Regions from separate parts of the Homo sapiens genome. Here regions 1 and 2 are each linked to region 3. Evidence: fine-mapped QTL for protein levels in blood plasma. A gene starts in region 3. Each other region holds a variant in brackets. All regions are shown on one strand. Distances are between the middles of the regions.

What was found. PIP is the posterior inclusion probability: the model's chance that the variant is causal. Protein levels are from antibody-based Olink assays in UK Biobank. Linkage for the fine-mapping came from a reference panel and not from the study's own genotypes, which makes the PIPs less certain.
Region 1: its variant is fine-mapped to the plasma level of the NELL2 protein (UK Biobank, PIP above 0.99). The variant lies in the coding sequence of NELL2. If it changes the protein, the assay may bind it differently, which can mimic a change of level.
Region 2: its variant is fine-mapped to the plasma level of the NELL2 protein (UK Biobank, PIP above 0.99).

Annotation. Positions count from the first base shown.
Region 1 is chr12:44,713,203-44,715,967 of GRCh38, reverse strand. NELL2 (neural EGFL like 2) reads left to right here. Exons shown (of 20, transcript NM_001145108.2): 10 at 1,227-1,318. Among named protein-coding and RNA genes, the nearest start is that of NELL2, 160 kb to the left of the region's middle. The variant A/G (reference allele first, on the strand shown) is at 1,271.
Region 2 is chr12:44,288,704-44,291,468 of GRCh38, reverse strand. All of the region lies in intron 5 of TMEM117 (transmembrane protein 117), which reads right to left. Among named protein-coding and RNA genes, the nearest start is that of TMEM117, 450 kb to the right of the region's middle. The variant G/T (reference allele first, on the strand shown) is at 1,646.
Region 3 is chr12:44,874,847-44,877,611 of GRCh38, reverse strand. It overlaps NELL2 (neural EGFL like 2), which reads left to right and starts at 1,297. Exons shown (of 20, transcript NM_001145108.2): 1 at 1,297-1,797; 2 at 2,259-2,387. The coding sequence starts at 1,743. RefSeq lists enhancers at 173-672, 673-1,174.

The sequences.
Region 1 (2,765 bases), 160 kb after region 3:
ATAATAAAATTTAAAAGTAAAAATATGTCTACTTTCTTCCTTCTTTATTATTGGCAAGTTGATAGTTTTAAAGGTAATAGGGATATATAAATTCCAAAGAGTGAGACAATTTCTCATAATTCACACAGTGGAATCAAAAGAAAATATACCCATTCACTTTATATAATTTGTATAGTTAAAATAAAAAATTGGATTTAGTAAATTTGGGGAACAAATTGCCAGAGTCTGTATCAGTTGATCACTTCCACTGGTCTTTGAAATAATTATCTTGGGGTAGATCTAGATGTTATGGGGACCTGAAGCATCTACAATATTGGGTGGCCTTTCAAAGATAAACAATACAAAATTATGAAAGGAGAACTTAGTTCAGCATCTTACAAGGAGCCTAAGCCAGAGAAGGACGCTGAAAATTAGGCATCATTAGCTTTAGGGTAAATCTGTTTCACCTTAGGTGATGAGTCAGTGTAGGTCGTGTGAAATACTTCAAAACAAGGAAATGATTTCTGTTGGCTAAATGTTTGTGTGAACTGTAAATATGTTGCAGGTTTTAGAAAAAGATTATTTGATACTCTATGCATTTTTATGGATTAAAAACATATTTTTCCCATGGAATCTAAGGTTACATTTTAAAATTTCACTTAATTGTGATGGAAGCAAGGCAGGTTCAGATTCAGACCTCTCAGCATCCTAGATGGGGTGCCCTAACCCATACATACTTATAAATAAAATGACACTAAACCATAAAACTTAAAACTTACATGGATGTGCTGAAATGAATATACCTTCTTTCTATTATAATGTTCTATTTTAAAATTCTGTAATGGTATATAAAACAAAAACTTTTCTCATATTGTTCCCTGAGTCTCATATTACCCCTGATTTATTGCCGCCCTAAGTGACTACTTAATATGCCCTAAGTGGGACATCATCTATTAGGCAAGTAATTGGCTGTAAGTCTGCTTTTTGGCACTACTTTTTCAGAGTCTAATTCAGACATGTCATTGCCCTTTATCTTTTTTATATCTTATTTTACTCTCTCAACTTAATTTGCATGACACTAATTTAAGTTTACATGTGCCTTGCAGTAGATTGAATTGAGGTTTCTGGTTAGTCATACATGTTGAAAAAAGGTGTATAACATGTGGAATGCTGTTACAAGATGATCTGATCCCTTCTAAGCTATTTTTCCCAATAAAATAAATATATATGTATTTTTTACTCCAAAGCGATATGCCAATTTCAAGGACGAACCTACTTTGAAGGAGAAAGA[A/G]ATACAGTCTATTCCTCTTCTGGAGTATGTGTTCTCTATGAGTGCAAGGTAAGAAGACTATTCGTGGGTCTTTCAAAATTGTTTCTATTTATAAACAAGATAAAAGTTTCTTTACTAGCTCAACCTTGAAATACATTTTTGAAATTCTAATGCAAAGAGAAAATTCACAATATTAATTATCATTTGAATGTAAAGAAATTCTCATTTTTAAGCATGTAAATTAGTGGTTGAAAAATAATTTTTCCAAGAAATGAAAATGCTATTTTGTCAAATTAAAGCTTTATGAAGTTGTCGTATGTTTTCCAAATTCAAATAAGCTCCTTATTTGCTCTTGGGAGGAAAATGTAGGTGAAGTTAGACTTAGCTTTTTGTCACTCATGATTTTGTACCATGTGAGAAGTATTGCTCAGTTCAATTAAAAACAAAACGAAAAATTACCTAACTAAAATTAATTGTTGGATGGAGTTGAGACTGATATTTATCTAATTCCCTTTGGAAGGAGTGTTTTAAATTAGTTAAAGGGAAATTCCTTACAAATTTACTTGCCAAGGTTTCTGAAGCAAATGTGATTCATTTGAATTTTTGCCCCTCGACCTACTAATTGAAAAACTAAATATGTTTCACAACACTTTTCATGTTTGTCTTTTGTAAATTATAATGTTATATTTCTTGACCCTAATGTTACATTAAAATCCTTATTCTATATGAAGGAAACTGTCTATATATAAAATTTCTGCTTTAGGGTTTCATTTTTATTTGATAGTTAATTTTCCTCTTTAAATACCTCCTATACATGGTTTGGGAAATGATTTAGTATGTATAAATTATGTAGAAAATTAAGATAGTGATTTATGCTGCTGGCACCACCAATAAACTATGATTGCTAAGAGTGAGGGAAAGGAAAATCCTAAGAATTTTGCTAAGACAAATTGAATCTGAAAGAAGCTATCCAGTTTATGCATCTTAATTTGGAAATCCTTTGAGATAAGCAAGGAGGAGATGCAAAGAGGCAAGACTGTGACAGATTTGATTTCTAGAACATGAAAGCTCTGATTTCTTCATGCCCATTATAAAGTATCCTCTCTTCTTCTTTTAGTTTTAAATCAGCTTTCCAATGATGTAGGTTCTCATCTTAGAGAATAGAGGCACAGGAACATTAAAATGAATTCCTCAACCTGTATTTCAAGATGATGGATTTTCCTTTATCAGCCTCCCTACACCAATGCCGTTTTAAGTGGAGTAAGTCTCACAATAGATAAAAGAATTGGAAGACAGAGTGAGATCTAGTAACTCCAAAATGAGAAAAGAGACTCAGAGAAGTTACTTCAAGGAGGGAAGAAAACTTCTGCCAGCTGGCTTCTAATAGTAATCTCTAACATTAAAATTTTGGTTCTAAATTTAAAAATCTTGAGAGCATTTAAAGTTTCTCTACTTCTCTTTCTCTCTCTCTCTGTCTCTCTCTCTCTCTCTCTGTCTCTCTCTGTGTGTGTGTGTG
Region 2 (2,765 bases), 590 kb after region 3:
GAAAGGAAGAAAAACTGTTTCTGATTGCAGATAACATGATCTTACATACAGGAAACCCTAAAGACTCCACCAAAAAAAAAAAAAAAAAAAAAAACTGTTAGAACTAATAAACAAATTGAGTAAAGTTGCAGGACAAAAAAATCAACATACAAAAGTTAGCTGTGTTTCTACATACTAATAATAAACCATCTAAAAAGAATCAAAACAATCCACTTTACAAAAGAATAATAAAGAATAAAATTCTTGCAAATAAATTTAACGAGAGGTGAAAGATCTGTACACTGAAAATTGTAAGATGTTGATGAAAGAAACTGAAGAGACAAATAAATGGAATACTTCCTATCTTCAGAGATGGGAATAATTAATACTGCTAAAATATCCATATTACCCAAATAAATCTACAGATTCAATGTAATCCCTATAAAAATTCCAATGGCATTTTTCAAAGAAATCAGAAAAACATTTCTAAAATTAATATAAAACTATAGAAGATGTTGAATAGCCAAACGAATCTTGGGAAAGTACAGCAGGGCCAGGCACAGTAGCTCATGCCTAAAATATCAGTGCTTTGGGAGACCAAGGTAGGAGGATCTTGAGATTGGAAGTTCCAGACCACCCTGGGTAACATAGTGAGACCTCGCTTTTATATATAAAAAATTAATAACCAGCTGGGGCTGATGGTGCATGCTTATAGCCCCAGCAACTCCAGAAGCTGAGGTGGGAGGATTGCTTGAGTCCAGGAGTTTGAGTTTGCAGTGAGCTATGACTAAGCCATTGCACTGCAGCCCAGGTGACAAAGAGAGACACTTGTCCTTAAAAAATAAAAAAGAACAAAACTGGAGGTGTCACACCTTCTGATTTCAAATTATGTTACAAAGCTACAGTAATCAAAACAGTATGCTACTGGCATAAAAATGAGATACATAGACCAATAGAACAGAGAGCCAGAAATAAACCCATACATAGACAGTCAACTAATCTTTGACAAAAGCACTAAGAATACAAAGAGAATGGCATTGTGATAAATGAATATCCACATACAAAAGAAAGAAATTAGACACCTACATCATACACAAATATTAACTCAAAATGGATTAAAGACTTAAATGTAAGGCCTGAAATCATAAAACTCTTATAAGAAAACAGGGAAAAAGCTCCTTGACATTCGTATTGGCAATGATTTTTTGTATATGACACAAAAAGCAGAGGCAAAAAAATAAAAATAAGCAAACGGGATAACATCAAAGTAAGAAACTTATGTACTGCAAAAGAAACAATCACACTTATGTACTGCAAAAGAAATAAAAAGGCAAGCTATGAAATGGGAGATGGTTTTACAAACCTTGTATCTGACAAGGGGTTAATATTAAAAATATATAAGGAACTCATACAAGTTAATAGCAAAAAATGAAATAACCTGGTTAGAAAATGGGCAAGGGGTGTGAATAAACATTCTTCCAAAGAAAACATACAAATGCCCAACAGGTGTATTAAAAGGTGCTTTATCTCACTAATCATCTGGGAAATGCAAATTAAAACTACAATGACATATTGCTGTTAGAATGGTTATTATCAAAAAGACAAGGGATAACAAGTGTTGGTGATGGTGTTAAGAAAAGGGATCCCTAGACTCAGTGCAGTGGCT[G/T]TAATCCCAGCACTTTGGGAAGCTGAGGCGGGCGGATCAGGAAGGAGTTTGAGACCATCCTGGCCAACATAGTGAAACCCTGTCTCTACTAAAAATACAAAAAATTAGCCAGGCATGGTGGCGGGCGCCTGCAATCCCAGTTACTCGGGAGGCTGAGGCAGGAGAATCGCTTGAACCTGAGAGGCGGAGGTTGCAGTGAGCTGAGATTGTGCCACTGCACTCCAGCCTAGGTAACAGAGGGAGACTCTGTCTCAAAAAAAAAAAAAAAAAAAAGAGAAAAGAAAAGAAAACAGATCTCTTTTACATTGTTAGTGGGAATGGTAATGTAAATTGATTCAGCAAGTATGGCAAACAGTAAGGAGGTTCTTCAAAAAATTAAAAATAAAACTACTATACAATCCAGCAAATCCACTTCTGAATATATATCTAAAGGCAATTAAGTCAGTATCTTGATGAGATATCTGCACTTTCTTGTTCATATCATCATTATTCACAACAGCCAAGATGTAGAACCAACCTAAGTACCTATTAATGGATGAATGAAGAAAGAAAATGTTACACACACACACACACACACACACACACACACACACACACAAAATGGGATAGTATTCAGCCTTAAAAGAGATGAAATCCTTCCATTTGCAACAACATGGATGCACCTAAAGAACATTATGCTAAATAAAATAAGCCAGATATAGAAATACCCATACTGTATGGTATCACTTACATGTGATATCTGAAAAAGTAGAACTCATAGAAGCAAAGAGTAGAAGAACAGATATCAGGGATTATGAGTGGGGAAAATTGGGAGATGTTGTTTGAAGTGTACAAACTTTCAGTTATAAGTGAATAGGTTCTGAGGATCTAATGTACAGCATGGTGACTATAATTAATAATACTGAAGTTTTACTTGAAATTCACTAGGAAGGTAGGTATTGAGTGTCTTCACCACATGCATACATACATACACACACAATGGTTAACTATGTATGATGAATATGTTCATTAATTTGATTGTGTTGATACATGCATATGTATATTAAATCATGTTGTGCACTTTAAACATATACAATTTTGTTAATTATACCCCAATAAAGCTGAAAAAGGGAGTAATTCT
Region 3 (2,765 bases):
TAAAATGTATATTATACTCCTGCCTTGCAGGGGGCTCAGACTACCCAGTAGGCATTTTGGTAACTGTAGCTGTTAGTATCCAGTTGGAGAATTCAGTACCCACATGTTTGCATGGAAGGTTAAGAAACCCAATTGATCTTTGTACAGATTAATACCATAATGGTTTTTTAAACTCTTAACTTTTCCAAAATGAAAGTGGAATGCCATTCCTCAAAATTTACCTAAAAATTTTAGGGCTATGTTCAAAAAATATTATGTACCATTGATCTTGAACATACATGTGCCTGCTGAAAAATGGATCTCAAAGGACACCACTTTTATGGTCCCGGACATATGTGGTGAAGGGCAGGTAGAGCCTGCATGAGTGTGGTCAACAGTGGGATGGCTCTTCTCTCTCGCCTGGGCTCCATCTCCTCCCTCTGCTTATTTACGTATTTATTTATTTCTCTCTCTCTCTCTCTCTCTAACCATCTCCTCTATGTAGGTAGATATTTCGGCGTGAACAGACGCCCTGGCTCAGTTCCCCTTGCCTTCTGCTGTATGCTGGTCCCAGAGAGCCCGAGTCCGGGTCTCCACGCTTTATTTGGCAGGGGGCGCGCGGGTTCCGGAGCTGTCCAGCACCTCCTGGCCAAGTTCTCTGCGCTCTCCGCGCCCGGGAAGCTCTCCGCGCCGGGGAAGCTCTCCAGCGCCCCGCCCCCGGCAGGGAACCTCTCCACCAGGACACCCGGGGCTTCCCAGGCTCGCCATCCGTCCCCACCAGTCTCTACCTACTTTGCCCAGCTCCACCTCGGCAGTGCAGCGTGTTTTGGTGGCCTTCCTCCGCACGCCCTGGAGGGGGAGTGCCCTGCACCCCGGGGCTGCTCCGGAGCCCAGTGCACGAGTGCACATGGGCTTCCCTCCTTTGCTTAAAGGGCAGGCGAGCGCTACTCGCTCCAGCCTTGCCTCCTGCAGCTGGGTGGTCTTTTTTCTCTCCTGTCTTTCAAGACACGCGCCCGAAATCGAGGGGTGAGAGCAAAGACCGCCCATCAACTTAGCACCTTGGATTTAGAGCTTTCAATCCCGAAAGGAGGTTGGCATTGCCCGGGTCATCGAGAGAGGGAGGGAGAAGAGCTGAGGCTGCAACGGCTCCTGGGCTCCCTAGACCGGGTTTGGCATCCAGGAGACCGTGCGGGAGACCGACGCTGAGCGCCGGCCTCGCCCTCGGCGGCCCCTCCCTCCTCCTTACCCCGCCTCCCCCGGCCCGCCCCTCCCTCCCCGGAGGAGCAGTCTCTCCGCGCGTCTCCCGGAGCTTTCTCCATTGTCTCTGCCTTTACAACAGGTTCGGGCGGCGGGGAAGACGGGGGGGTGCGGGGCCGCCCCAGCCCGGGCTTTCTTGGGGCCGCCCCCCTTCTACCGGGTGTGCGAGTCTTTGGCTGCTTTTATTCGGCTCGGGAGCTAATTCCCCGACGGAGCCGCGCCGGGGCGAGTCCGACCCCTCCCTCCGGGCCCCCTCCGGGCCGCGCTGCCGCCTCGGCCCTGCGTGTGGGAATGATGTGCGCATTGGAGGGTCTAAGTTCTTCACGCGCCTGGGGAGGCCTCCCTTTTCTTTCTTAGGCAACCAAAGCGTATTAATCCTACTGATCAGTAAATCCGAGGCAGCAGCAGGAGAGACAAACGTTATTTTCCCGCTTGATTCCAAGAACCTCTTCGATTTTTATTTTTATTTTTAAAGAGGGAGACGATGGACTGAGCTGATCCGCACCATGGAGTCTCGGGTCTTACTGAGAACATTCTGTTTGATCTTCGGTCTCGGAGCAGGTGAGTGGCCGCAGAGCTGGGGCTGGGGAAAGGGATGGCTCCCGCCTCGGGGCAGCATGGGCTGGCTGGGGAAGCCTCGCTTTTCCCGGACCCAAAGTAGGTCTGGAGTGGGAAGCTTGGAGTAAGGGGGCGGGTTTGGATATGGATTTTTTTTTTTTCTGTGCTTGCCTTGGAGACCGCGAGGCGGATCACGCCCCTAGTCCAGGGTCGGAGGGCTGAGGGGGAACTTTGCAGAGAGAAGGGTTTAAAGGAGGTCATGGAAACGGGACTGGGTGCTCCGCTATTTAAAGCTTGGCTGCTGATCTCAGGTAAGGCTCTCGGCGGAGGAGGAGGCAGTCGCCTCTCATCTTCAGTTCCCAATATTGTCGCGAAAACGCGGTTCTTTGCTGCCCTGGAGGAAGAGACTTGCATTTTGATGGAGCTTTTCCTTTTTCTCTCTCCCACCTCATACCCCTCACCAGTTTGGGGGCTTGGTGTGGACCCTTCCCTACAGATTGACGTCTTAACAGAGTTAGAACTTGGGGAGTCCACGACCGGAGTGCGTCAGGTCCCGGGGCTGCATAATGGGACGAAAGCCTTTCTCTTTCAAGGTATGCCCGGCGTGCTGCATCCCCACTGTGATTTCAGTTCCGATAACCCCGGCAGGAGTTGCTCTTGCCGCTTGTCCTAACTTTGTATTGCCTCATGGATGACAGTACTTTAGCTGAGGTGTAGAAGGGCCAGTGTGAGACACATATCCCTATCTCTTTTAAGTGGTTTTTTCTCCCCTGCCTCACCCTTCTCCTTCGTACTTTGTACTCTTGCCAGTTCTAATGGATAGTCCCTTAATTACTGAGCAGAAACTCCTATGGCAGATGGTTGATTTTAGAATCTGGGGAACAATGAATTATAACACAAACGCCTCGTTTGGGTGAAATTGATTTAGGTAGGAAAAAGGATAGCTTAATCTTAGTTAAGACACTGATCTC